Linked DNA regions of Homo sapiens: region 1 is linked to region 2. A link means that fine-mapping ties the variant in region 2 to the expression of a gene that starts in the linked region. Tissue or cell type: whole blood. Region 2 holds a variant in brackets; the other region holds the start of a gene. All regions are shown on one strand. Distances are between the middles of the regions.

Region 1 (10,517 bases), 35 kb before region 2:
ATTTTTAGGAGAGATGGGGCTCTCATCATGTTGACCAGGCTGGTCTTGAACTCCTGATCTCAGGAGATCCACCCACTTTGGCCTCCCAAAGTGCTGGGATTACAGGTGTGAGCCACTGTACCCAGCCTCACTTCCCTATTTTCTCACTTAGTGTTTTCTAGAACCACCTTTCAAATGAACTAGTTGTTCTCAAATCCTTGCTTTGGGGGCCTCTCTGGGGGGAGTCCAAATTGGGGTATATGTAACTATAAATTGTGATGCATGCCATGGAGAAAAGTACAGTCTACTCTTTGGGTGGGGGGACCTGCTCCATTATGGGGTGGGAATGTGGATGTCAGGGAAGGCGAGGAAGAGATCTATTAGCTGGGATCTAAAGGAGGAGCAGGGCAGAAGGACACGATACAATGAGTGTCTGAAAGGCCACTGTGGCTGCTACAGAGGACGGGGACATGGATGGAAGCTTAAGAGGCCAGACCCTGGAGGGCCTCATAGGACATGGTAAGGAGTTTGGCGTATGTATTCAGAGAACACGGAGAAGTCATTAAGGGGACTACAGCAGGACAGCGACAAGACTATACCTGTCTCTAACCATAGTGGAGAAGGACAGGAGAGCCCGCATGGCAGGGATAGAGTTCAGAGGCCTCCGCTATGACCCAGGGTCTTGCATGGAGTTTTGCACATGAAGGAGTCTCAACAGATGTTTGCTGAAGTGGAAGGTAACTATTAACCATGTAGTTGACTGACCAGAACACCCAATTTCCTGGCCAAGCCGATAAATGATTTCCCTTCATTAACGTTGCCTTTTTTTTTTTTTCTGGGCTGCTACACTTAAAACTCTATCATCCCTTTCTCTTGGGGACAGCATCAACAGGATAACTCCCTTCTACTTTTACTTATTCTCCACTTCCCTCCTTTTCACTTTCTTCTTTCTCTCCTTCTCCTCTTCACCCCTTTGTCTCTCCTCTTTCTTCAAATAATCCTATTTAATAAAGTTGATTATTTCTTACCGTCTCCATTCCTATTAATGGTGGCATGTAATTCTTGTCTCTGGACATCTCAAGACACTGCAGATATAGTCAGTGGAAACAGAATTACACTTTGTGAGCAAGGTAATTTTAAGTGGATCTTTAGTCAAATGCTGTCAAAATGCAAAAAAGAAGAATGTTCCCAAGCGCATTCACTCCTTTGGTAATATTGCCACATACACATCCAGCATGCACTTGAAATTTTTATGAAAAAGAAATTCCATTCCAAAGGTGATTCATACAAAACATTATGTGTATGTGTGTATGTTATTTACAATTTGAAATCATGAGACATAGAACATATTTTCAAGAGATAAAAAAAGTGGGGACATATTCAGAGATAACATACATCTGATCACCAATGTGGTTTCACATGTGGTCACTGTTAATAAATTACTACAGAACACACTAGAAACAGAGAATGACATATACCAGTCAGCAAAGTTGGATTTATGGTGCTGCAGAAAGTAACATAGTATGGAGGACCAGGAAGGCTGAAACCCAGCCCATAAATTAATCTCCAAGTGTATGTTGTAAATAGTCACAATTGTACCCTTTTTCCTCTTGTGTTCCCTTTTATAAAAATATTGAAATCCTTGCTCATCCCTTTCTTTTGCCCAGCAATTAAAGAAAAACAAACTAGATGTCTGAGATTTCACATAACCTTTCATACCCAATATTTTTATTGTCTTAAATCTTGAGTAGTCAGCAAGAGTTGTGTTTTGCAATACGCTGGGGTAAGGAAAATCTGTTCACCCCATTTTCCATTTTCGCCCCTGGTGTCCTCTTCTGGCATATTCACCCATCACCCCATGGCCCTCACCCTGTGTTCTGGCAGGATTTGAGACATGCAAATTGCAAGCTGGTAAATAGCAGCTTTGCATATTTTGAATAGAAGAGAACAACGTGGTACCACTCATTCTGTTCTCAGGGAAATCTGAGATAATAGGGAGCAAGATCGAGGGCAGACCGAGGGTCTTAAGTATTTTCTTAAAAGTGTTTATTATGCTTATTAAACCTATTGTACACTGATGAATTAATTTGAATTATTTACATGGTCACCCTTGGAGACAATAACCTGATTTAATCAGAGGATGCAAACGTTATCATTTCTCTTTGAAATCTAAAAACAGGTTTAAACTGGAAACGTCAGGACTTCTTGTATCTTTCCCTACAAATACTGGTTACAAATCTGCAGTTGTCAGGCTAAATGACATAATGTCAGAAATCAAGAGAATGTGGTGTATTTCTTAGGAAAGTCAATAAACTCCCCTGTGCGAACATGTCCCCTGGACAGTGGGTGACTAATTTCTCAAGTAAAAGGTCTTTCTATTTTGTTTATCTGTAAATATCATGCACTGTCTGACATAAGGGGGTTCATCTGCTAAAATTTCAGTGTATAGGAAAATGACATGGTAAAAATGGTTGGGGTTTTATCAGATTATGAGACTGGTGTCATTTTAAGTGAATGTTTGGACTAGTAAAAATTATTTCATTTTACTATTGAAGCTGTAAGAACCTAAGGTTGCTGTCAAGTTGAAAGGTTCAAATTCAATTATTTTCAAATCTAGGTTTCCATTGTGACTTGGAAAAAAAATTAGAGATTATTGTTCAAATCTCTCCTACTTTGGATTTTTTTTTCTTAGTATTTGGATGTTTATAAGAAATTGTTGTGAAAGTTAAAATCTTGTGCGTTTGTAAAATTGGAAGAGGCACAAGTGATTCTGAAGGTGGAGCCTTTCAGAGGTAAAGCAAACAGCTTGCATCTTCAATATTTTATGAGATCTAGGTATTAGAACCATGTTTCTGATGCAGGAATACAGCTATCTAGGAACAAAAGGGAGATGAGACTACAGAACAGACTGTGAAATTTCTTAAAATTATTAAATGATCCTAAGACTGAGCACAGGAGTGGATGATGTTACTGCAGATTGTTCTTAATAAGGGCTTTAAAAGCTTAATGATTTATTGATTGGCTCTGCATTAATGACGTGCCCTTGATTATGCATGTGTAAATAAGAGGGCTGATTTATGAGGGTACAATTGTATCTTTCAGATATATTTGTCCAAGTCTACATCTTTAAAATAAATGGAAGCAATTATCTGAATATTTCAAGGGAGGGAACCCCACCTTCCCATCCCCCACCCCCGATTTGAGGGAAGTCTAGTATGTTAGGTGAAGAGAAAAAAAAAGAAAAGAGGAAGCTCTAAAGGGAGTTAGGAACAAAACAAAACTTCCGTTAAGAAATATCCCTGCTTCTCTTATCCTAAGAGAAGAAAAACAGATTCCCAGGTGCCACCGGGGAGCAATGTTTTACTTAAAAAAAAAAAAAGAAAAAGGAAAAAGAAAAACCTGTAAGAAGTTGTCCTGTTAAATCAACGACACATGGAGTCTGAAGGAAATCAGCCTTTTCGTTACAAACAGGTTTAAAAAGCCCTGGAGAAGAGAGACGTGAACAGAAGCAATATTATCCACTAACAACCTAACTCCCGCTTAGACATCAGCTGAGAGATCAGCAGCATCATTGAACAGGGGGGTTTGTCTTAAGATAATGACTCATCTTGATTTCTTTCAGGATATAAAACTTGTATTTAAATCAATTCAGAGAAGCACTTGAGCTTTAAACATTAGAGAGCAGGGAGAGCCTATTTAATAAACAGCATTATTTCATTTTCAAAGAATGATACTGGCAGTAGCTCTAAGTTTAAATTTTGTATTATTTTCCTCAATTATAATTATAGATGGGTCTGAAAGGAAGCATGCTTATTACTGTCATATTTATTCTTTTGACAGGTGTTATGGGACTGTAATTTGGTGAAATGATTCAAAACGCAGATTCCTATCCAAACACAATTCTTGTCATCAACACGAGAGGTTCAGGAAAAGTCCTCCAGCAAGCCTTTCAGAGATCTTGAACACCCCATATTCATAGCACAATCCATATTCAGGAATAAGGAGGAGAGAGTGCCTTTAGGGCTTATATCCGGCGTAGCAACAGCCAGAAGGCAGAGTGGGTGTTTGAGGTAACAGGTAACGAAGGCTGTTAGTGGGGACAGCTTTCAACTGGGTGGGGTCGGATCTAGGAAGAGGCACCCAGTAGGACCCCGAGTCCCGCGCGCGGCCGGCAGAGGGCGCTGGGCTCACCGTCGCCGGGCAGGGGCGGTGCCGCTCAGTCCCCGGGGCGCAGGCGCACTCGTCGCCGCGGCGGCGTCCGGGGCTGGCGTTCCCCTGGAGGCTGGTGAGCCGCGCTGCGCAGGCCGAGGCCGAGGGCGGGGGCGCGGGGGCAGCGGCGGCCGGAGCCACTGGGTGGCGGGGGCGGGCTAGGGATGTGGAGGCCTCGGGTGTCCTCGGATCTATTGAAGACCTAGGGGCGACCCGCGCCGGCACCTTTTCCCTTGCGGTCTGCGCTCTTCCACCGGAGAGCTGAGTGCACCGGAGCGCGGCGCCCGGGCTTGACGCAGGCCTGGCCGGGCGGCCTCGGAGGAGCAGGAAAGGCCTGCAGCGCGAGCTAGGGGCGCGAGGTCCGGGGCAGCCCGGAGGCCAGCCTCTCAGAGGCTCACGGGCCTGGCCACTTTTAAAAGGAGAATGTCCCCTCCACCGTCCCTCTGCCCGCGGCACCCGGTGGCCGGAGCAACCTTGTCGTGATGATTTATGCTTCTGCGTAAGAGCAAGTTGCTCCGTGGCCAAAACCCTTTCGCTCCTAGGATTGATCCTTTTTGTGGTTATTGTTTTAAAAAGTTTTATTGAGATATAATTCACGAAGCATACAGTTCACCCATCTAAAGTGCACAATTCAGTGTCTTTTAGTGTGTTTGCAGAGTTGTGCAGCTGTCACCATAATGTTTTAGAACATTACCCCCCAAAAGAAACACCTCCTTTAGCTGTCACTCCCCCCTCCCATCTACTCCCATTCTCCCAGCCCTAGGCAACCACCAATGTACTTCTGTCTCTGTACTTTTGCCTATTCTGGATGTTTCGTATAAATGGAATCATACATTAAGTAGCCCCTTGTGACTGGGTTTGTTCACTTAGCGTAATGTTTTCTGGGTTCACCTGCCATAGGTTCTTGACTTCAGGACAGTTTCCTGCTGGCTTTAGTTTCCTCTGGTAACTTGGGAATCAATTGACATCTATGGAACTTCTGTTATGGTTCAGGTACTATAAACTGTGGAGGAGTGACTAATAACCGTATATATATTTTTCTTACTAATTTCCCTTCATTTCACAGGTGTTGAACTAATACAGTATAGTTTCTTGTTCTTCAGAAGCTTACAGTCAGCAAGGAACAGAAAGCCAAATAAAGTAGGAAAGGGTAAGATGTTCAACGCTGGGCGCAGTGGCTCATGCCCATAATCTCAGCACCGTAGGAGGCTGAGGAAAGAGGATCACTTGAGCCTAGAATTTTGAGACCAGCCTGGGCAACATAGTAAGACTTCGTTTCTATAAATAATTAAAAAAATTAGCCAGACGTGGTGGCGTGTGCCTGTGATCCCGGCCACTTGAGAGGCTGAGGTAGAATCGTTTGAGCCCGGGCAGTTGTGACTGCAGTGATCCCTGATCATGCTACTGTACTCCAGCCTGGGTGACAGAGTGAGACCCTGTCTCAGGACAAAAAAAAAAAAAAAAAGATGTTCAAGCACTTAAGATGTGCCAGCCCCTGTGCTAGGCACTTTCCATAAGTTAGCTAGGTTGGTCTTTACAAAACCCCTGTGAGGTGGGTTATTCTTTTCTCCAGTTTACAGTGGGGGAAGCAGAAGTCCAGAGAAGTCAACCAGGTTGGCCAGGATTACACAGCTAGTAGATAGCAGAGGTAGGCTTTTAAACTAGGGTTCTTTGTCTCCAAAACCTGCTCTAAGTTCTGTCACATCGATTATAATCACAATAAGTGATTACAGAGCAGTGTGATGACTGTAATAGGGGTGTGAACAGCATGGGATGAAAGCCTGAAGGAGGTGACAGGGAACTGGATCTCTAAGGATGAAGGGGAATTCTTGAGGCAGGTGAAGAAGTCAAGGTAGGGGAAAGCACAGCATGTTTCAGAGATGGTATTAACAATAACAGTTAGTAGGAAACATGTAGTGTGTGCCAGGCATCATGCTTAGTAGTCTAGGAGCGTTATTTCATCCTTACAACAGTCCTATGTAGGAAATACTATTTATTAGGGACCGCATTGACAGATGGGGAACAGACTTCGAGATAGAAGTTAAGAAACTCGTCCAGGGTCCTAGAACTAGCAGGTGATAGAACCAGGATTTGAACCCAGACTGTCTGATCCCAGAGTCCTCCAAGTTCAGTCTGTGGCTAAAATGCAGGAAGTGTGGGAAGGACAGCAGGAGGGGAGACTGATGAGAGGGATTGAAACAGATCTCAGAAGGCCATGGGTAGAGAACTCTCTACAGAGGTTCTGAGGAAGGGGAGTGACAGGGTGTGCTTTTTAGGAAGTGTTCTTGGGTGGCACCATGTGGATTGGGCTGGAAGGAGGGAGACAGATCAGGAGGTATTCGGATAGTCCCAGCCAGGTATGGGTACAAAGCTGGGAACCAAGGTAATGCCAACAGGGATGAAGGGGGCAGGGAGGGGGTGAGGGGACTTTAGAGCCTTGGCTATGTAGGAGAGGGACTGGGGGAGGCAGGGATTGCTGCCCCATTGCTAGCTTGGGAGAACACAGATGTGCAAGATGGAGCCCTGGAGTGGGTGGGGGTGGGAAGCAAAACCACTCCATTCCTATTTTTCAACTTTTCCCTTCAAGAAGAGTAATTGCATATTTAAAAAATGGCCTGTGCAGGCTTAATTTAGCGTGTATCAGTGCTCAATAGGGCATAATTTCTGGTTATTTTCTGCAGTTCCATTCTTTCGTCTTTTTTTAATATATGACTTTTTCCCACTTATTTTTAGGTGCCTATATCGGGACATAGATTAGGGAAAAGGACAGTGGGGTTAAATGGGACTGTGGGCCTGCTTCTCAACATCTGTGCCAGTGATAACACTTGGCTTCCAGGAAATTCCCTTTGTAGCTTTATTTTCTCTTTTTAAAAATTCTGTCATATTCTCCTTTGGATTTGGTAAGAGCTTTGTTGTTAAGCATTTCTTTAGTTGCTCCTTTCCTTTATCTGTGTAATTGATGTCAGCCTGGTGACTCTTTCTTTCTTTTGATTTTTTTTTTCCATCTATATGCAGGGGGAAGCTGCAGACGATGTCCTTGGGTTTCAGAAAGGCATGGAGCAAGGTTTTGTAGAGAAGATTGAGGAGTACTGGATAATAGTGCAGTCAAGTGCCTTTATAAGTGCTTGAACCTGGTCATGCATGAACCCTGCCAGAGTTCTTTGTGGGGTCCTTAGCCCTGATCTGGTCAGTATTTTTATGAGTGGCTCAGACATAGCAGGTAGATTCACGAAGCAGATAAGGGCATAGTCTTTGGAATCAAATAGACCTAGGTTCTATTCCGGGCCTTGCTCTATACTAGCCTTGTTGCTCTTGGCAAATTACTTAACCTCTCAGGGCCTCAGTTTCCTCATCTATAAAATGGGACTAATGATACCTCCCTTAAAATATTGTTGTGAGGATTAAATGAGGTAACATGAAAAGCTCTCAAACTTGGCATGTCCTACTCATTCCCTGGATGGGAGCCATCGGCTTTGCAGAAGGCTCTGGGTCAGAGAGCTAGGTACACCAGACTGTTCATCTCTGTGGTCCTAGGGCTGGGTCCAGAGTTGTACAGGTGCTAGATGCTCTGAATGGCATGGCGTAGTTGACTGATGCTTACAGTATATAGGGTTACTGTCTTTCTCTTTGTCTTTACCCTGTGTTTACCTGGGGTGTGACTGTTTCTGTGCTCTTATTTTGTTGAATTGAGTTGATATAACAGACCCCCCTAAGGATGGTGGCAGATTGTGACTCTGGAATGACCTCATAAAATAAAAGATGGGGAAAGAGACTTAAGAACAGCTCATGGAGCCGGGTGCAGTGGCTCACACCTATAATCACAGCACTTTGGGAGGCCAAGGCAGGTGGATCACCTGAGGTCAGGAGTTTGAGACTGGCCGACATGGCGAAACTCCGTCTCTACTAAAAATAGAAAAATTAGCCGGGCATCGTGGCATGGACATGTAATCCCAGCTACTGGGGAGGCTGAGGCAGGAGAATTGCTTGAACCCGGGAGGCAGAGGTTGCAGTGAGCCAAGATTGCGCCATTGCACTACAGCCTGGGGAACGAGAGCGAAATGCCGTCTCAAAAAAAAAAAAAGAAAAAAGAAAAAAAGAGCAGCACATGGAAAAATGCCTTTGAGCCAAATGCCAGGGCCACGTGAGGGCCCCAGCAGAGAAGCAGTCTGAGCTGCATTCCTTGAATTCCCAGGTCAAAGGAGGTGACAGGGCCACTGCCTGTGGAGTTGGTCAGAGCATGGCCAAACTGTTGTTTTCCCATGGGACAGCAGGTTTAAGAGTGGTATCAAAAATAAAGGTACGTGTGTTGAGAGGAGGGCAAGTGGGACAGAGACACTTTGAGAGGCGACAGCACCTCCCCGCTGCTTACATTGGAAAAGGGACTAGGGAGGGGCTGGGATAGTTGACTGTGAATAATGAAAAGCTGGGCTTGGGAGGAGGTGAGGGAAGATTTTGTCCCAAAGAGTAGAGCTCTTTGTGGAGTGAGTAGAACTTTACAGCGGGGAATTTTAACTCAGAACTGGAGGGACTTTCCAATAGCTTGAGCAGAGCGAAAATGGGGGACTTGTGAGTTTCCTGCCACTTGGAGCACATGTAGGGAGAAAAGCTGGGTGACTTCCTGCCAGGTGTGTTTTTAAAGCGATTTTTTATTAGGAAAATTTTCCAAATATATGGAAGTTAAAATAACAGCATGGTGTTCACCCTTAATGCCTACCATCTAAACGTGATCTGAACATTCTGCTGCATTTCTTCATCTTCCTCACTCTTCTCTCTGTGCTGTCTTTTGCTGAACTATTTGAAAGGAGGCTGCAGACCTGATGACATGTCACCTCTAAATCCTTCTGCCTGCGTCTCCTGAGAGTAAAGTGATTCTCCCACATAACCACATCGGTCTTATAACCCAAGAAAATTCATAATTCACACTATCGTTTCACATCCAGTGAAGATTTTCATTCAGGAAGTTGGTAAATCACTGTGACCACCATATGGAGAATGGCTGGTGGGGCCTGAGGGCAGGTGGATACCCTTCCAGCAACCCCAGCAAGAGCCTGAACTAGAGGCCTGACCTAGAGTAATGAGGGGTGATGAAGGCTGTTTCAAGGTAACCACAGGCCTCCCACTGAGCATGGTGGCACTGAGGAGGAGATGCCAGACCACAGAGCTGAGTGTGGAAGAGGCAGGAGGTATTCAGGAAGCAGAGAGGAGCACTGTAGGCAGAAGTAGGAGGATTCGTTCAAAATAGAAATTGAATGTCTACCAGGATAGTTAATTTTATGTGTCAACTTGGCTGGGCCACAGGAGGCCCAGGTATTTGGTCAAACATTATTCTGGGTGTTTCAATGCGGGTGAGATTAACATTTAAATTGTTCGATGGAGTAAAGCACACAGCCCTCTATAATATGGGTGAGCCTTTTCCAATCCATTGAAGGCCTTAAACGAAAAGTCTAAGCCTCCCCTGAGTAAGAGAATTCTCTTGCCTGTGGCTTTCAAACTGGGACATCAGCTCTTCCTGGTTCTACAGCAGCTTCCAGCCTTTGTGCTTGAACTGGGACATTGGCTCTGCAGATTTTGGACTTGCCAATCTCCATAATTGCATGAGCCAGTTCATGGTAATAAACCTCTGTCTCTCTCTGACACACACACACACACACACACACACACACACACACACACACACACCCTCCCTCCTATAGGTTCTGTTTCTCTGGAGAACCCCAATGAGTAAGTACATCTACTCCATGCCAGACATTCTGCCCCAGTGCTGAGACCATAACAGGCAAACACAGCATGGGCTGTTGTGGAGTGTGCCATACAGGGCTCAGTTTGCCTGGACTAGGCTGTGGGTGGTGAGAGGTGCAGATGAGGGGTAGGTAGGGGCCAGATCGAGAGGGGCCTTGCAGGCCATGGACAGGAGCCTGGATTTTATTCTGTAGACCAGTGCTTTCCACACTTCAGGACCCTCATGATTTTTGCCGGGTCCACATTTCAATTTGATACATAAAAAATCAGTTTTATGAGCATTTGAAAAAACTGCTTTAGGCCATTAATACCTATGAAAACGTGTTTTTCCCCCCTCATTACACATGAAAATAAATATAAAATCATTACAATAAAAAATACTGGCTGTATACTACTTAAAGTAATTTCAGGTATTTGTTCTACATTTTGGGAAAAGTTGCCATGAATGATGGGGGCAGGGGTGGATATTAGGGGTTTTAGGAAGGACAGGACACTTTGAGATTTATGTTTTAGAAAGATTCACTCTGGCTGTTGGGCAGAGAAGGATGGCAGAAAATGGACTGGAAGACAGGGAGACCAGCTAGGGGCTG
Region 2 (10,517 bases):
AGTTCAGCACCCTCTGCATTGGCAAATCAGAGATGAGTCACTTGCCTGCTGACATATGACTCCTGATAGAAGGGACTTGGAGTAGCAGTCAGGTTGAAAGGGGAGCAGCAAGTTCATTTGGGCAGCACTCATATTGCTTTTTATTTTTATTTTTTTGAGACAGAGTCTTACTCTGTTGCCCAAGCTGGAGTGCAGTGGCCTGATCTTGGTTCACTGCAACCTCCGCCTTGAGGGTTCAAGTGATTCTCCTGCCTCAGCCTCCTGAGTAGCAGGGACTACAGAGGTGTCCCACCACACCCAGCTAATTTTTGTTTTTTTTAGTAGAGATGGGGTTTTGCCATGTTGGCCAGGCTGGTCTTGAACTCCTGGCCTCAAGTGATCTGCTAGCCTTGGTCTCCCAAAGTGCTAGGATTACAGCGTGAGCCACTGTGCCTGGCCTCTTATTGCTTTTTATGGACTGCATATTTATATGAGGTTGCTTTGGAGTGGCCTGATAGAATTATGGGTGGCTAAAACCCCTTACACAACCACTGTGGATGAAGTAAAAAGAAAAAGTTGAGGGGAAAGGTTCTGGCTCTGGGAAGCAGAAGGCAGAAATACAGTTGCAGAAAGTTGTGTGTCTGCATCAAAATAATCAATCACCCAGCTGTGTCATCCAGCCTGAGTCAGACCCCAGAGGGCACCTCATAGAGAGTAGATGATGCTGCTGTCAGTGGGAAAAACTACTAGGAACAATCAGGACTGATGGATGTTGTGGAGTGAGCCCTCAAGTGCTCATCATCCAAATTAGAAGTTACTCAATGAACAGTTGTAGGCAGAGAGAGGGACTTGGTGGGTCCCTGTTGACTGGAAGTGAGTTGAACCTTGGGCTCTGGAAGACAGAAACCATCACTGTGAAAAGGCGGGTGAGCTGTTGTTCCCTTTACTTTCCTTGTGCATTGTTTCACATTTGTTTGGGTTGGTGAAGATAATCTCAACACTCCTCAAATGGCAGCACTGATAATGCCAGGCAATGTCTTTGTGTACAAGGCAAAGTTCAGCGCCTTCTGGATTGACCAATCAGGGATGAGTAACTTGCTGGTTGTCATTTGATCCCTGATAACCGGGACCCTCATCTCTCCCTTTCAGCTTTAATGAATGAAATGGTAGCAATAGTTAAAGATGCTGTTGCCCAAAGAAGTATTGATTTTATAATTTGTTTCCTCCATTCTTCACCCTTTAATTACTGATTGGATTCAAGGTTCTGGTTTTCAGCAGGTCATGACAAATCTAGCAAATAAATAATAGCGCAGTAAGCTTTAAGTTCATTATTTTCATTGGCATCAATGCCACTATCATTTTTCATTCCATCTTGATTCAGTTCAATACAATTCAATATGTTTTTGAGCCCCTAGTCATTCTAAACATTGTGGCAGGCACTGAGGAGACAGTAATGCATCTTTAAATACGGTTCCTGTTCTCATGAGGCTTACAGTCCAGGGGGAAGACAAACATGAAAGAAGCAACTATATGCCCATTTAGAATAATCACTAAGGGATGCTATAGGAAAGTGTAACATGGAGATCCAACCTAATCTTGATGGGTGGAGCGGTGAATGGACACAGGGAAGATCTCCCAGGGGAAGTAAGATTCCAGCTAAGAATTGAACGATGAGTGTTTTTGGGCAGGGGGATGGAAGCGGGATGGGGTCAGGAAATGAAGAGTATTTTAATGGAGAAAACAGCAAGGCAAAGCTCTATGGTGGAAAGGGTGTAGCATCTTCATGGACCTAAAGGAAGTCGAGGTATTTCAGAGCACAAGGAGGAGAGTCATGGACGATGACCTCAGAGAGCTCAGCCAGAGCTGTGCAATGGTTTGGGACTTTATACCAAGGGATTGGGAAGCCTGGATTAAGTGTTTGGGATGTAGTATTCTAAGCAGGTATAACAATAGCAAACACTTATATTGTGTTTACTATGTGCCAGCCACTGTTCCAAGCACCTTGAAAACATTAATTAATTTATGTAGAGACCCATTGCACCCTGTTTTCTGGTACCAGGAAGCAAGACCAAGCCAAAGTCTATCTGGAAAAGCCAAGAGTCAGATGCTGGAGAGACCAGAGAACAGAGGCAAGCTTGTTTTAGCAAAAACTTGGAGTCAAGTTCTTGGGGTCTGGCTGAGATTAGCCTGAAGGAGGGCAGGTCAGGAATCATCCAAGACAGCCGAGTGACTAGAGATGGACAGTTTGGGGTTTCTTGGCTCAGCTTAGATAGCAGAAGGTGCATGGCACCCGGAGCCTGGTGTGCTGGGCTGGTCCATCTCCTGCTTTTGGTGTGAACTGCAGGAAATAATTGAGGTGAATCTGATGCTCTCGTATAGGGTATATGGACAATAGAATACTAATGCGAGACCAATATGTGAATGAGTAGGAGTATTTCTGTGTTATGGTCAGAAGTCGGAATTCTAACTGGCACCAACATTGACCAGCTGGTCACCTGTCAATTGGTAATACAGGGAATGCCCACTCTGTGTGCACCTCGTGGGGGCAGAGTTGGGGATGAGCATGGATGGTATCATGAAAAGTGCCCTGGCCAAGGGCTGAAGAGGTTGGACTCTAGTGCTAGTTCTGCTGCCTTTTAGCCATGTGAACTGGCACAAACCACCCACTCTGCCTGAGTCTGTTTTCTCATCTATAAGATGGGCTTTATGGAGTTGTTATGAGGATAAAACGAAATCTTATATGCGAGTGCATCTTTCAAGCGGTAACATATAACTGTAGCAGGGTGATTGGATGCTAGAGAAGCTAGCTGTGCTGCAAACCAACATAACATGAGTGTGCCTCAGAGTGCTAACTTCGTGATTTGACATTGTTTGGGAAATGTTGTTGGCAAATATGTATGTGTGCTTTCAGGACCCCTCTTCCCAGAAGAGCCCACCTGGAAGGTAAATGTGGGTCAAATGATTGCATGTGGCAGACTCGAGGCAAACCGGACAGTTGTCATGTGACTGGTGTGGCATGCTCACAGCAGCATGGACAGTTGTCTTGTAGCTAAGCTAGGCAAGCTAGGCTCATGGCATAGTGGACAGCTGTCATGTGGTTGGTGTGGCAGGCTCATGGCAGAGTGGACAATCATCATGTAGCTTGTGTTTCAGGATAGACAGCTATGATAGTCACTCCTTCTTCTCTCCCGTGCCCTTTCCCTCTCTCTCTGATAACAACACCCCCATCCGGCTTCCCAGGAACCAGCTACCCTCTACCCAGATGACCATGACTAAGGCCCAGACTACCTAGAATTCCGAGGGGCAGATTGATATGGGCTGGAGTGGTCAGAGAAAGCTTCGAGCAGACCCAGGAAATTGAGCTATACCTTGAAAGGCAGACAGGATTGAGGCAGTCCTGTCTCACCTGAGGAGAAGGCATTTCAGATGGTGGGGTCAGCTAGAGGTATAATTAAATGTGGGCCTGGGAGGAGACTCAGACTAGATGGCAGGGTGCTTGCAGGAGATGGTGAGAGATAATCAACAAATCAGCTCAACCTCAATCCACTAAGTCTAGACTACACGCACGGCACATTCCCAACTGTATTAGTCTGTTCTCATGCTGCTAATAAAGACATATCCAAGACTGAGTAATTTATAACAAAAAAGAGGTTTAATGGACTCACAGTTCCTTGTGGCTGGGGATGTCTCATAATCATGGCGGAAGGTGAAAAGCATGTCTTACGCAGCAGAAGACAAGAGAGAAAGTGAGAGCCAAGCGAAAGGGGAAACCCCTTACAAAATCATCAGCTCTCATGAGACTTATTCACTACCACGAGAACAGTATGGGAGAAAATGCCCCCATGATTCAGTTATCTCCCACCAGGTCCCTCCCACAACATGTGGGAATTATGGGAGCTACAATTCAAGATGAGATTTGGGTGGGGACACAGCCAAACCATATCACCAACCAACTTATTCCAAGTCTGTCCTTCCTTAATTACCCATATTTTGATCCCACATCCATCACTCATTGTCAGGAAGTTCTTTGCTGTGTCTAATCCAAGTCTGCATGGCTAAGGTAAGGTTGTTTTCCCCAGTTTTGTCTTCAGGTGAGGCGAAAGACACAGTTTATAGAAAGCCCCAGCAAGGAAAATATACTGGTGTTGACTCCAAATGTTGTCCCTGAGGAAAGCTTTTGGCATCTAGAATGGCCCAAGTGGCTGCAGCAGTCTGATCCTGCCTCCAAGAGGAACTCTGGCTATGCTGGGGATCTTGGGTATTTTCTTTTGTCTTGTCAACTGGTAAAAGGACTTGAGTTTCCCCCTCCAGCTCATAGGAGAGGCGAGAAGGAAAGAAAAAAAGAGGAATTCATCTTCTTTGTTTTTGCGGTGGAAATTATTCGCCTGTACCAATAGCATATTAAGATATAATATTTAAAAGGAAAATGGCACAGTTTCTTCAGAGCTAAATGTTTATTGTTGACTCAAACATGGGTTCTTCTGATTATATTAAAGTTGCCCTGGAAGCAAGAGAAGGGATCCTGGCATCAGAGTGACCTGGGCTCGTATCCTGACCTGGACACTAGTGAGGTGTGAGACCTTAGGCAAGCGAGTACACTTGTCTCAGCCTCAGTTTCCTCATCAGTAGAATGGGGGTGGGGGCTGAGGGCAGTAATCCTTCTCCATAGAATTGTTATACAAATGACCACTTTATAGAACAAACAGAGGCTGCGGGTTGAAGATTCCCATCCTTCACTTATTCTCACTCTTTTCTGTTGCTTCGTCCTTTACTGGTCCCTCCTAGGCCCTCTCTCCTGGTCTGTGCCTCAGACTTCCTAGAGGGGACTCCAGGGCACAGCTCACAGCAGCCTCCCTTCATCAGCACCGGGAGCCTACTTCCCCCACCCAGAGGGACAGGAAACTCCTTCTGGAGGTGAGCCCCTGGCCTCTCTTTCATCCTCTGTCATCAAGCCAGGGTGATGAAATTGAGTGGCCCTCACTGTCAAGTGCCCTTTTTACTGGAATTTAATCAGAACTCACAGATCAACTCTTTGGTCATTGCAGTTGAGAAGCTCAAGACATTCCAGCCTTACCCGCTTTGTTCTGCTTTTCCTGATATTGCAAATACTTTTGGATGCTTATTTTTATTCAGGAAAGCACTGAGTATCAGACTTTTTCATGAGAGTTCCCTGTGGAGAGATGATTGCATCTCTAGAGGCCAGTTACTGCTTTAGAGACCCACAGCGCAGCTTTTCAGCAAGAAGCCTAATTAAACAAGTTTGGGAAAGTCCCCGAACTGTGTTTCTGTGGGGTCCTGAGACAGCCTGATTTCAAGGTAAAATGGAGGCCCTTTCCTGGAAATGATGCAATTGACCAAAACAAATACTTTCATCCAACCTCCCTTTCCAAAGGCCCCTCTGTTGGTGGATTCCCTTTGGGGGCTGTGT[C/A]AGGAATCAGAGAGTGGGGTAGGGGCCAGGACTCCCTAAATCCTTTCTGTCTGAATAGCAGAGGGGAGTTTTGGCTGAAAGCTGTTTAAAAGATAAATTAATTTTCTAACTCATTAGTTTATTTAATCCATAATTCCTATCATGTAAATTTATTTTGTTATATAGAATAGGTAAGATATTTGCCTGGTTCAGAATTCAGTAAAAGGATCTCCTAACCCAGTCCCAATTGTCTGATTTCCCTCCCTAGAGGGAAGTAACAGACCAGTTTCTTATGCCTCCTTTCAGAGATATGGTATGTATAGAAAAACTGTACATCTTTTCTTCTGGTGCTCTCTTTTTTGATTTTTAAAAACTTAATATATCGTGGAGTTCTTTTCAAAACAATGCATAGAAGTCTTCATTTTTTTATGGTTCATATTAGTCCACTGCATAGAGATATCACAACTTTTTCAGTAATCTCCTATTAAGGGACAGCTGGTTTATTTACATTCTTCTACTATTATAAGCAACACAGCAGTGAATAACCCTGTACAAATGTCTTTTCATACATGGGCAAACATCTGTAGGATAAGTTCTTATAAGCAGAATTGCTAAGTGAAAATGTATACACATTTGTAATTTTGAAAGATGTGCTGAAATTGCCCTACAGAGAAATGGGACCAGTTTACACTGCCACTAACATCTAAGAGTGTTTTCAACATACAAGTGTTTTATTTATTTAGTTAGTTAGTTATTTAGTTAGTTGGTTTTGAGACAGGGTCTCACTCTGTTGCTCAGGCTGGAGTGCAGTGGCACAATCATGGCTCACTGCAGTCTTGACCTCCTGAGCTCAAGTGATCCTCCCACCTCAGCTTCCCAAGTAGCTGAGACCACAGGTGTGCACCGCCATGCCAGGCTTTTTTGTTTGTTTGTTTTCTACAGATGAGGTATCACTATGTTGCCCAGGCTGGTCTTGAACTCCTGGGCTTAAGTAATCCTCCTACCTGGGCCTCCAAAAGTGCGTGGATTACAGGTGTGAGTCACCATGCCTAGCCTAGTGTTTTATTGAGTGTTTATTATGTTCCACATACACTGGGTGGTTAAAAAGGTGAGCTCACCCTTGAGTGGCTTCCCTTTTCTCATAAGGTAAAGGCCAGTCCCTACTTGGCCATCGCCACCTTGCCTGCCCCAGCCCCAGAGTGCCCTGCCTTCACCCCAGCCCCACTGCAGCCTCCCTCTTGCCCAACTCACCACCCTTAGGCAATCTCACCATGTTTTAGTTCTTCAAACATGCTAAGCTCCTTCCACGCATGGGGTCTTTGTACATGAAATGCCACATGGCTAGATGTCCCTTTCTCCCTGTTCCTCACGTGGTTAGCCACTGTTCACTCTTCAGCTCTCAGTTCAATCACCATTTCCTCTGGGAGCCCTTCTCTCACTTCCATGACTAGGTCCCTTATGACTAAGTTACAAGCTCCCCAGCTCTGTGTACAGTTGTCCCTCGGTATCCGTAGAGGACCGGTTCCAGGACCTCCCATGGATACCAGAATCCTAGGATGCTCAAGTCCCTTATATGAAATGGCACAGTATTTGCATAGAATGTACACAATCCTTCTGTGTACTTTAAATCACCTGTAGATTACCTGTAATACTTCATATGATGTCAATGCCATATAAATAGTTGTTATATTCTATTATTTACATTTTTATTGTTGTACTGTTATTTTTATTGTTATTTATTTATTTTAAAAAATATTTTTCTATCCACAGTTGGCTGTATGCACAGATGGGGAACCTACAGATACTTAGGGCCGACTGTACTTCTTGTAGGCCCAGGAACTATTACCCATTTTATTTCTCTGATGACTTACTATTGGTCTTTCTTGCTGTACTGTGAGATCCATGAAGGCAGGGACCATGTCTGTTTTTCTCTCCGTTGTATCTCCGAAGCCCAGCACTGTGCCCGGTCCCTAGTAGGCACGCTGTAATAATTGTTTGAGTTTGTTCAGTAAGATCGAGGACTCTTGATTAAGAGTTCAGTATGTGCAGGCACTGTTCTAGGCACTGGAGATACATCAGTGCATAAAACAGACAAAATTCCTGCTCGCTCCAGCTTGACATTCTGATAGTTGTTGGGGGAAGGAATATACAGTTAATAAATAAATAAAAATGAGCAAATACGTGTTATGTCAGATTGTGATATACGCCATGAGAATAAATAAATCAAGGTGGAGCAGCAGAGCAAGATGGAGCTGGGGAGCCATTTAAATAGAGTCTTCAGGGAGGGTCTCTTAAGTAAGGTGACATTTAACAGAGAATGAATGGAGGAGTGAGTCATGAGGATATTTGGAGGAGGAGCATTTCAGATGGAGGCAATAGCAAGTGCAAAGGTCCTGAGGCAGACCTGTAATAGACATATTAGAGGAAGCAAGAAGGGCCACGTGGCTGGAATGAAGCACGCCTGTAATCCCACCTACTCCAGAGGCTGAGGCAGGAGAATCACTTCAACCCGGGAGGCGGAGGTTGCAGTGAGCCGAGATTGTGCCACTGCACTCCAGCCTGGGCAACAGAGCAGGACTCTCTCTCAAGAAAAACAAAAATAAAACAAAACACTGTTCTGAGAATGGAAAGACATAAATAATTGCAAGTTACATAACTGATAAATGACATGTGTCTTAGAATATACAAAGTGCTCTCAAAATCCAACAATCAGAAAGCAAGCACATTTAAAAAGGGCAAAAGCACTCACAAAAGACAAATACTGTACGATTCCACTTATATGAGGTATACTTAGAGTAGTCAAAATCACAGAGACAGTAGAAGGGTGGCTGCCAGGGGCGAGGGGGATGGGGAAATGGGGAGTTATTGTTCAACGGGTGCAGAGCTTTAGTTTCACAAGAGGGAAAGAGTTATGAAGATGGATAGTGGGGATAGTTTCACAATATCATGAATATATTTAGAACCACTAAACTGTAAACTTAAAAACATTAAGATGATAAATCTTTTGGTATGTGTGTTTTAACACAGTAAAAAATTTTGAGGGAAAAAAGGGCAAAAGACATGAACAGATGTTTCACCACAGAAGATATATGGATGACCAAGAGGCACATGAAAAGATGCTCAGCATCATTGGTAATTAGTAAAATGCAAGTTAAAACCACTATGATATATCACTATACATCTCTTAGAATGCCTAAAATAACAAATATTGACAATACCAAATGATAACTAGGGTGCAAAGTAGCCAGCACTCTTATACATCTCTGGTGGGATTGCAAAAAGACTACAAACACTTTACAAACCACTTGGTAGTTTCTTGTAAAGTTAGCATACATCTACCATATGGCCCAGCAATTTCACTCCTGGAGAAATGAAAGCTATGGTCATGCAAAACCTGTACATGAATGTTTATAGTTATTTATAGTCTATAGTTATAGTTTATAGTTACTTGTAATTGCCCAAACTGGAAGCTACCCAAATCTCTGTTAGTTGAGGAATGTATAAACAAACTGTGGCACACCCAAACAATGAAATACTACCTAGCGGTAGAAAGAAATCGACCATGGATACACACAAAAACATGGGTTGTTTTCAAATGCCTTCCGCTAAGTGAAAGAAGCAAAAATACCTACAGAAGTAATAGGCTACATACTGTGTGATTCCATTTATTTGACATTCCAGAAAAGGCAAACCTAGAGGGGCAGAAAATAGATCAGTGGCACCAAATATACCTGAGATTAAAGTCAGCCACATGATCTCTTTGAATTTCTGTTTCTTGATCTATAAAATGGGAATAATTTTACCTACCTAAGGGAATTGTGAGCACTCAGTGCCAAAATATATAAAAAATCTAGAAAATTGTGCTCAGAAAATGTTAGTTTTCTCCCCTTTCCTTTCTGCCTCATCAGGCAGATCACTTCTACAGATGGCCAGTTTCATCTATGAAGTGTTCACTTGTATGGGTTTTCCTCTGACAGGGGAGCCTTATCTTTAGATTCTGGATGCACCTTGCTTGTCCTGTAGGTGCCGACTGCTGCCACTGGTGTATCTGCTGTGACTTGAGGGGTGATCTCAGCTTGAATCCAACCCAAGGCTCAGGCATGTCTGGAAAACCGATGGGATGGCTTTCCAGACCTGATTTGTATTAATGGTGGAACCTCCCCTCAGAGAACTCATTCTAAGCAAAGAAGGAGCCACGGTTGATGAATGGACAAGAAGGGGCCCTTCAGAATGACTGAGGCAGGGAAAGAGGGCAGCGACTCTGATGACCTCTCACTCAAATTCACACACCTACCCAGCTTCCGTGGACTGTTCAGGGATCCCCTCTCTTCCACTTTGCACCAGAAAGCCCTGCAGCTTTGCTATTTCAAGGGCCCCAGGGTCAGGATATGATGGAAGATGGTGGTATCTGGTGGCCATGGGGTGCTCTGTGCCAAGTCCCTAGAGAAACCAGGGTTCAGCAGGAGAGGACTCAAGCACAGGCATACATGAAATACCTCCAGGGAACTCACAGAAGTACGAGCATGTGGGACACAGCTCAGGGCATTTTGAGTTATTATTGTTAATGGGGAAGCCTCTGTGTCCCCAGTCTGGTGATGGTGGGGGTGTCCCCAGTCCTCCCTTTTCCTTCTGAGGATTGTCATGTAATGTCTACAGAAGGCTGTGATCCTTCCAGTGTGGCGAGGTGTTTGAAGATAAGCCCAGAGCATGTAGCATCTACTGAGGACACGCCATCCACACAACCCTGCTATGTTCTAACAGGAGGCTCTGACCCTGTCCCTGAGGAGCTTCCCTTATTTGGGGAGGTCAAACATACATAAAACAGCTTTGGAATAATTACAATATAATAATGAAATTTGCTGAGAGAATATATCTCCGGAAACACACACACACGGGTAACTATGTGAAGTGAGGGATGTGTTAATTAGCTTCATAGTGGTAATCATTTCACAATGTATACGTACATCAAAACATCACACCGTACATCTTAAATATGTACAACTTGTATTTGTCAAGTAAACCTCAATAAAGCTGGAAAAGATATCCAAGGTGGGGATAACACATTCTTTCTCGTATGGGGCACTATGGCAATAGACTCTAGGTTTAGGGGTGGCCTGCCCCTTGCTAACCC

Evidence for each region. PIP is the estimated chance that this variant, and not a neighbour inherited with it, causes the effect.
Region 1: it holds the start of LYRM9, and the variant in region 2 is fine-mapped to the expression of LYRM9 in whole blood (TOPMed, PIP above 0.99).

Annotation. Positions count from the first base shown.
Region 1 is chr17:27,887,064-27,897,580 of GRCh38, reverse strand. LYRM9 (LYR motif containing 9) reads left to right here and starts at 4,216. Exons shown (of 4, transcript NM_001076680.3): 1 at 4,216-4,264. RefSeq lists a silencer at 4,035-4,584 and enhancers at 7,595-8,546, 8,547-9,498.
Region 2 is chr17:27,851,644-27,862,160 of GRCh38, reverse strand. It overlaps LOC124903961 (a long non-coding RNA gene), which reads left to right and starts at 5,432. Exons shown (of 2, transcript XR_007065681.1): 1 at 5,432-5,699; 2 at 7,157-7,564. The variant C/A (reference allele first, on the strand shown) is at 5,408.